Regions from separate parts of the Homo sapiens genome. Here region 2 is reported to be linked to region 1. The links are microRNA targets in miRTarBase. Many come from high-throughput screens and were not tested one by one. Region 1 holds a microRNA gene; the other region holds the end of a gene's coding sequence.

Region 1 (4,725 bases):
CTTAAACAATAACCTGCAGTATACTCCATAGGATCCAATCACACAGAAAATATTACATTAGTGTCTCAGTCCAATAAAATACATTTTCAACACCAAGCCATCATTAATGAAGTACTATTTTTTTCACTACTTGCTAACCCAGTGTCTTCATAAAACTTTATAAAACTTAAAATAGGCACAAGCAACCATTACATGAATGTGTAGTTACTTGTTCCTTGCACAATTTCTACTTAAGATTTTAACCTTACTTGAAAATCCTCCATCATCATTCTCAGTAAACTATCACAAGAACGAAAAACCAAACACCGCATATTCTCACTCATAGGTGGGAATTGAACAATGAGAACGCATGGACACAGAAAGGGGAACATCACACTTTGGGGACTGTTGTGGGGTGGGGGGAGGGGGGAGGGATAGCATTGGGAGATATACCTAATGCTAGATGACGAGTTAGTGGGTGCAGTGCACCAGCATGGCACATGTATACATATGTAACTAACCTGCACATTGTGCACATGTACCCTAAAACTTCAAGTATAATAATAATAAAAAAAAGAAAATCCTCCAATAGAAGCCGGGTGTGGTGGCTCGTGCCTGTAATCCTAACACTTTGGGAGGCCGAGGCAGGCAGACTGCCTGAGCTCAGGAGTTTGAGACCACTCTGGGGGCAACATGGTGAAACCTCATCTGTACTAAAATATTTTTTAAAAAATTGGCTGGGCGCAGTGGCTCACGCCTATAATCCTAGCACTTTGGGAGGCTGATGCAGGTGGACTACCTGAGGTCAGGAGTTCAACATGGTAAAACCCCGTCTCTACTAAAAATACAAAACATTAGCTGGATGCAGTGGCACACACCTGTAATCCCAGCTACTCGGGAGGCTGAGGCTGGAAAATCGCTTGAAACCAGGAGGCAGAGGTTGCAGTGAGCCAAGATCGCACCACTGCACTCCAGCCTGGGTGACAGAGTGAGACTCCGTCTCAAAAAAAGAAAAAGGAAATCCTCCAATGGAAGATTTCCACCTCCAGTTAGAATGTGGAAGATCACAAAATATCATCACTTTTGCCATAACCATGAGAAAACACTAAATTATTTTTCTTACAAGATACTGAAGACCTCTAGACATAAATAAGCCTAAATGAAGTGAATTACAGAAGAAGATCAGCCTTCTCTAGGTGACCGGAGATAGCTACTGCTTTCAACCCTAAGCAGCATTTGCACTGTGTGAAGATACAGTAAGGAGAGAAAAAAGCAACTATAGGCAAAGGATCTTTGCAAAAACACAGAGAAACCAACTTTTAATGCCCGAGCATGGGCAGAATCTCGAGGACCCCAAATAGGAAACTAGTCCTCACTGCTGTCCAATTACCACCCCCTCCAGAGGACTTCTGCAGAACAAACAGCAGTGCCGCAGAAAGGCTGGCCTGGAAATAAGAGAACATGTAGTCTACCAATGCTTAGGTCCTAAGGTCCTGCCAGGGATAGGAGACCAACCACTCCTCCCTTGACACAGCTGAAACGAGAGGTGAGCTGAAATTTACTAAAATAGGAAGCCACTTGAAATCACCTAGACTGAAGGACAGAGAAACAAACAAAACAAAACAAAACAAAAAAGTGTCAGAGATCTCTGGGACAACATAAAATGATCTAACATACTAGTAACTGCCCTGCCAAAAAGACAAGAGAAACAAAGTGAAGAAATACTTGAAGAGAAAATGAACAAAAATCTTCCAAAAGCAAAAGATTTTAACCCACAGATCCAAGAAGCTCAGTAAGCAACAATGGGGACGAATAGAAGGAAAAAAAAAAAGTCATATCTAGGCACATCAAGGTCAGGCTGCTGAAAATGAAAGATGAAGAGAAAAATACTGAAAGCAGCAGAGGGAAAAACAGACATTACACTGGAGGAACAACAAAGAGAACAACAGACTGACTAGTGACTCAATGGAAACTATGTAAGTCAGAAGACAATATACTTTACCGCCAATCATGAAGTGTTGAAAGAAAAACTAATGTTCTATACCTACCAAAAGAAGCCTTTAAAATTGAAGACATTTTCAGACAGCTGAGATCATTCAGATTGCATAAAAATACTCCTCAGCTCTCAAATAAGACAAATATATCAGTTCTTGCCACGTCTACTTACTTGTACTAGAGATTCTATCAGGATGATTAGGCAAGAAAAAGAAATAAAAGGCATCCAGATTGTAGAGGAAAAAGCAAAACTATCTCTATTCACAGGTAAATGATCTTGTATATGGAAAATACTAAAGAATCCACTAAAAAACTATTAGAACTAATAAATCAGTTTAGCAAGATTCCAGGATCCAAGACACACACACACACAAATTGTTTTTCTACAAACTAGCAATGAATGTCAAAAGTGAAATGAGGAAGTAATTCCATTTTACAATAGCATCAACAAGAATAAAATATTTAGGAATAAATTTAACAAAAGAAGTTTAAGACTTATACATGGAAAACTATAAAACACTGTTGAAACAAATTAAAGACCAAAATAAATAGAAAAATATCCCACGTTTATGGACAAAAAATATTTCATATTGGTAAAACAGCAATAATCCCTAAAGTGATCTACAAATTCAATGCAGTATCTACCAAAACTCCATCTGTGATTTTTTTTTTCAGAAAGGGACAAACTGACCCTAAAATTCACAAGAAAATGCAAGGGAGCCACCAAAAAAAAAAAAAAAAAACAAAGCAATCTTGAAAATTAGAAACAAAGTTCTCAGAGGACTCACACTTCCAGGTTTCAGCTTAGTACAAAGCTACAGTAATTAAGACAGTGTGTCTATTAGTTTGGTTTGGTTTTGAGACAAGGTCCCACTGTGTCACCTAGGCTAGAGTGCAATGGTGCAATCATACCTCACTGCAACCTCAAATTCCTGGAAACAAGTGATCCTCCCACTTTAGCCTCTCGAGTAGCTGGGACTACAGACACATACCACCACACCACTCAGCTATTATTTTTATTTTTTTGTAGAGACAGGTTCTCTTTAGTAGAGACAGGGTTTCACCATGTTGACCAGGCTGGTCTCAAACTCCTGGGCTCAAGCTATCCTACTGCCTTGGCCTCCCAAAGTGCTGAGATTTTAAGCATGATCCACCGTGCCCAGTCAACAGTGTGATATTGACATTAAGACTAGATATACAGATCAACTAACAGAATTGAGAGTCCAGAAATAAATGCCCACATTTATGTCAACTGATTCAATTGCCAAGGTGCCAAGACAATTCAAGAGAGGAAAGAATGGTCTTTTCAACACCAAAAAACTGTGTTCACGCAAAGACTTGTATACAAATGTTCACAGCAACATTATTCGTAACAGCCAAAAACTAAAAACCTTACTGTCCAACTGATGAATAAAAAAAATGTGGTAATGTCCACACAATATTATTTGACAATAAAAAGAAACGAAGTACAGATACATGCTACACATGGATGAACCTTAAAAACATCAAGCTAAGTAAAACAAGCCAGGCACAAAAGACCACATATTAAATGATTCCATTTATATAAAATATCCAAAATAGGCAAATCTACAGAGACAGAGACAGGTGGTTGTGTTGGATTGGGTGGAGCTGGGGAGTGGTTGAGGGAAAATGGGAAGTTACTTTTAATGGGTTTTCTTTCTGGGGTGCTGGTAATGTCCTAAAACTGACTGCAGCACTGAAGTAACGGTTGTGCAATCCTGTGAATATATTAAAAACCATTGAACTCTACACTTTCAGTTGGTAGGTGAATTTTATGTAGATTTTATTGTATGTGAATTATATCTCAATTTTTAAAGTTTTTAAAAAATAACTATTAAAGGAAGTTCTTCAGACTGTTAGAAAATGAAACAATATGGGCCAGGTGTGGTGGCTGAGGCTGAGGTGGACAGATCACTTGAGGCCAGGAGTTCAAGACCAGCCTGGCCTACATGGCAAAACCCTGTCTCTACTAAAAATACAAAAATTAGTCGGGTGTGGTGGTGCATACCTGTAGTCCCAGCTACTCAGGAGGCTAAAGCAGGAAAATCACCTGAACCTGGTAGGCAGAGGTTGCAGTGAGCTGAGATCACATCACTGCACTCCAGCCTGGGTGACAGAGTGAGACTCTATCTCAAAAAAAAGAAAAAAAAAAAAGAAAAAGAAAATGAACCAAAATAAACACAGATCCAGAAACAGATGAAAACAAATAAATAAATACGTAAATATAAAAGACTTTTCTTATATTATTTAAATGACTACTGACTTTTTTTATTTTTAAGGAGAGAAGGAGAGAGGGAAAGAGGAGAAAGAGAGGGAGAGAGAAAGAAAAGGAGAGAAGGAGAAAGGGAGAAAGGAAGGGAGGAAGGAGGAGGGAGAAGAGAGGGAGAGAGGTAGGGAGAGAAAGGAAGAGGGAGAGAGGGTAAGGGAAGGCAAGAGAGGATGAGAGCGAGCCACAGAGAGAGGGAGAGGGTACACACCAACTACTGACTGTTTAAAGCAAATAAAGTAACAAGGTTTAGAGGCTTATATCACATAGAAGGACATCAAATATAAGTGCATTAGCAGTTCATTATTCAAATTATATTCAATAAATTAAGGATGCACATTGTAATCCATATAACACTGCTATATACTGAATTGTGTCCCCCACCAAATTTGTATGTGGAAGCCCAAACAGGGCTTTAGGAGAAAATTAGGGTTAAAAGAGGTTTTAAGGGTAGGACTCTAATC
Region 2 (3,000 bases), not on the chromosome of region 1:
ACGCCCTGTAGAAAATAAAGGCTCTAGAACAACACCTAAGAAACCAGTAAGAGTGGGAGGGGAAATTTGGAGCTGGAGATAAGGGAGAATGGTTTCCGTTTGTCTCCTCTCTCATACCTTTGCAACTTTCTGCCACATGCAGGAAGGGGACACAGCACCCATTTCGCTAGAGCCTGTTCCTGCTGGCCTTCAGCCTTGTCATGGCTGAGAATTCGCCTCATGCCTGCATCAAAGAAAGACAAGTCTCTCTCATTTGTCTTTGTCTACTGCTCAGCAAAGCAAATTCTCATTGCAGGTATTTAGGGCCTAAGGTATAGAGTAAGAATTAAAATCCCTTTGGGAGGCACTGTCAGAGACCACCACGTGGACTCTCAACACATCCAGTGCAGCCCATTTTTTCCCTGGCACCAGAGCAGATAATTCTTCCAGTGAGCACCATATGAAGTAGCTTGAAGTTAGGAGCCGTACTTTATGAAAAAGATTCCTGTAGCACCCACCAAAAGCCCACAGGATAAGCACCTACGAACTGAGAATGGCCTAACCATGGGGTAACAGGCCAACTCAATAATACTGCTTCTGGCCGGGCGTGGTGGCTCACGCCTGTAAACCCAGCACTTTGGGAGGCCAAGGCGGCTGGGTCACCTGAGGTCAGAAGTTGGAGACCAGCCTGACCAACATGGTAAAATCCCATCTCTACTAAAAATACAAAAATTAGCTGGGTGTGGTGGCACGCTCCTGTAATCCAGCTACTCGGGAGGCTAAGCTGGGAAAATCGCTTGAACCTGGGAGGCAGAGATTGCAGTGAACCAACATCAAGCCACTGCACTCTAGCCTAGGCAACAGAGGGAGATTCCATCTAAAAAAAAAAAAATTTTTTTTTTAAAAACTGCTGCTGCTATTTTTTTTTCCTAGCATACACTTAAGTTTGCTGCACTTAAAATACACCCATAATGCAACTTCACTTTATCCCTACCTCTGACTTAGCAAACACATTCTTTCCCCAGCCAACTGTGCTAATGATATCACCAAAATGTTTCCGTGTCAGATGGGAAAATACAGTTTGAACAGGCATCTCCTACCTCTTGTAAAAGGTAAAGTAGAGGTTCCTCTCCAAAGACTTTCCTCCCCATTTAATTTGGAATAAACGGTAACTTCTCTTCGAAGCAAAATTTATTCAAAGACCTGTGCTAACATTCCTAATTATCTGCTAGCCGTGGTAAAGAAATCAATGTACTTTATGTTCTTAGCTCCCACAATTTAGCCTAAATATTTGTCCTGGCATGCTTACACTGGTCGGAGCAAGCATTAGGTCATAGCCTGTTCCTCTTCCTTATTTAAAAGTGTTTACCTTTCTCACCATTCCACAAGTTACTTTCTCCTTCCTTTGTTCTCTTCTGCCTTCGCCTCTTTTAAAAAGTTTTAAGTTGCTTCCCAATCAGGACAAATACAGAATATGAGGTCCCGTTCCAGCCAATGGAAACCGGACACAGCAGTAGGGTGGACGCATCAGGTTACAAATGACCCTGTCTCTTTGTTCGGTGTACTCTCGTGGCAAAACTGCTGGCGAATGTACCCTTTCTGCGGGAAGTAAAAATGGCCTTGCTGAGTAAATTAAATTTATGTTCAAGTGCTATTTCTTCACGGCACCGGGGAACAAGCATTTCAAACACTTTCATGAGAGATTATTTAAAATAGCACTTCTTTACACCAGGCGTGGTAGCTCACACCTATAATCCCAGTACTTTGAGAGGCTAAGGTGGAAGGATCACTTGAGCCCAGGATCCAGCCTAGGCAACATAGTGAGACCTCATCTCTGCAAAAAAAATTTTTTTTCCATCACACACCCATTCATTCAATACAAAAAGTCTTTTAAAAATTATTCAGGCATAGTGGCACACACCTGTAGTTCCAGCCACTAGGGAGGCTGAGATGGGAGGATTGCTTGAGCCCAGGAGGTTGAGGCTGCGGTGAGCCAAGATTATATTACTGCACTCCAGCCTGGGTGGCAAAACAAGACCCTGTCTCAAAAAAATAAAACAGCACGTAAGAATTCAAGGAACCCACATTTTAATACAAATTGTTAATGAAAATAAGCTTTATTACATCAAGTAATAAATACATACAAAGATGCAAACAGTTTTAGTCATTTTCTTCCAGATGTTTTTATCAACTTACAATAAACGCAGAACTGAGATCTACTTACAGTCTTAGTATGAAAGTGTTCGGGGGTCCTTGTTAGGTTTGGTGGGTTGCTCTTTCTTCTGTATTTATAACTTGTGCATTTTTAAAAATTGACTTTGAAGCACTAATAGTCATGCAAATGCTTAAGCAAAAAAGAAGTTACATTAAGCAGAACCTACATTGTATGGCAAATGGGAACCGGCTACTAAGTAAAGCGTGCTGTCAATATGCGTTCAAAACAAAATCCCTACAGTGGTATTAGCTTATGAAAAGGAACAAAGAACACCATGGGTAACAAATGTATACAAAAGAGAAGATTAAAGGGAGACAATGGTGTCTTGGAGGCAAACTACAGTTTGCTGTAAGATAACTTTCCGTGCATCTTTTAAATCAATGCTTAAAAAACAAAAAAAACCTGGGCAGTTCCTAACTACTTAAAATGCAAATCCTAATTAACTGCAAAATCTTTTCTCAATCTTTGAGACTGTAGGTTCAGAGCCAAGTGAACCATGGGAGGAAAAACGAAACTGTAACCATTTTGAAAACAAGGGTTTCATCTGAACAGGGGAGATGAACTGTAACTTCTCATCTTGTAAAAAGATGGAAATCCTTCAAAACCAACAAGGCAGCTAGGATCTGGCATTCCGTTCCGTTTCTGCCAAGCACTCCCGAACCAGTCCTCTAGCGTGAATGATGCCTGAAACAGAGGCAGAGACCTGAGGTCAGCAAGTGCACAGGACCAGCCAGCAAAGCCCATTCTGAAACAGCAAGAGGATCCATCCTTCCACAGCCTGTCCACAAAACCCTCAGACATAAAGA

What was found. The annotated mature microRNA hsa-miR-626 reads AGCUGUCUGAAAAUGUCUU and lies in region 1 at 2,049-2,067, opposite strand. An mRNA with a match to its seed (bases 2 to 7 or 8) in the 3' UTR can be bound and repressed. Matches are read on the target gene's strand: a 7mer-m8 pairs with bases 2 to 8, a 7mer-A1 pairs with bases 2 to 7 and ends in A, and an 8mer does both.
Region 2: the mRNA of CDK2AP1 is a reported target of hsa-miR-626. Seed matches in the 3' UTR shown: 7mer-A1 at 2,399-2,405.

The regions. Positions count from the first base shown.
Region 1 is chr15:41,688,987-41,693,711 of GRCh38, reverse strand. MIR626 (microRNA 626) reads right to left here and starts at 2,127; the gene lies at 2,034-2,127. The region is part of intron 2 of MGA (MAX dimerization protein MGA); the gene reads right to left.
Region 2 is chr12:123,258,926-123,261,925 of GRCh38, forward strand. It overlaps CDK2AP1 (cyclin dependent kinase 2 associated protein 1), which reads right to left. Exons shown (of 4, transcript NM_004642.4): 4 at 2,051-2,878. The coding sequence ends at 2,811. Among named protein-coding and RNA genes, the nearest start is that of CDK2AP1, 11 kb to the right of the region's middle.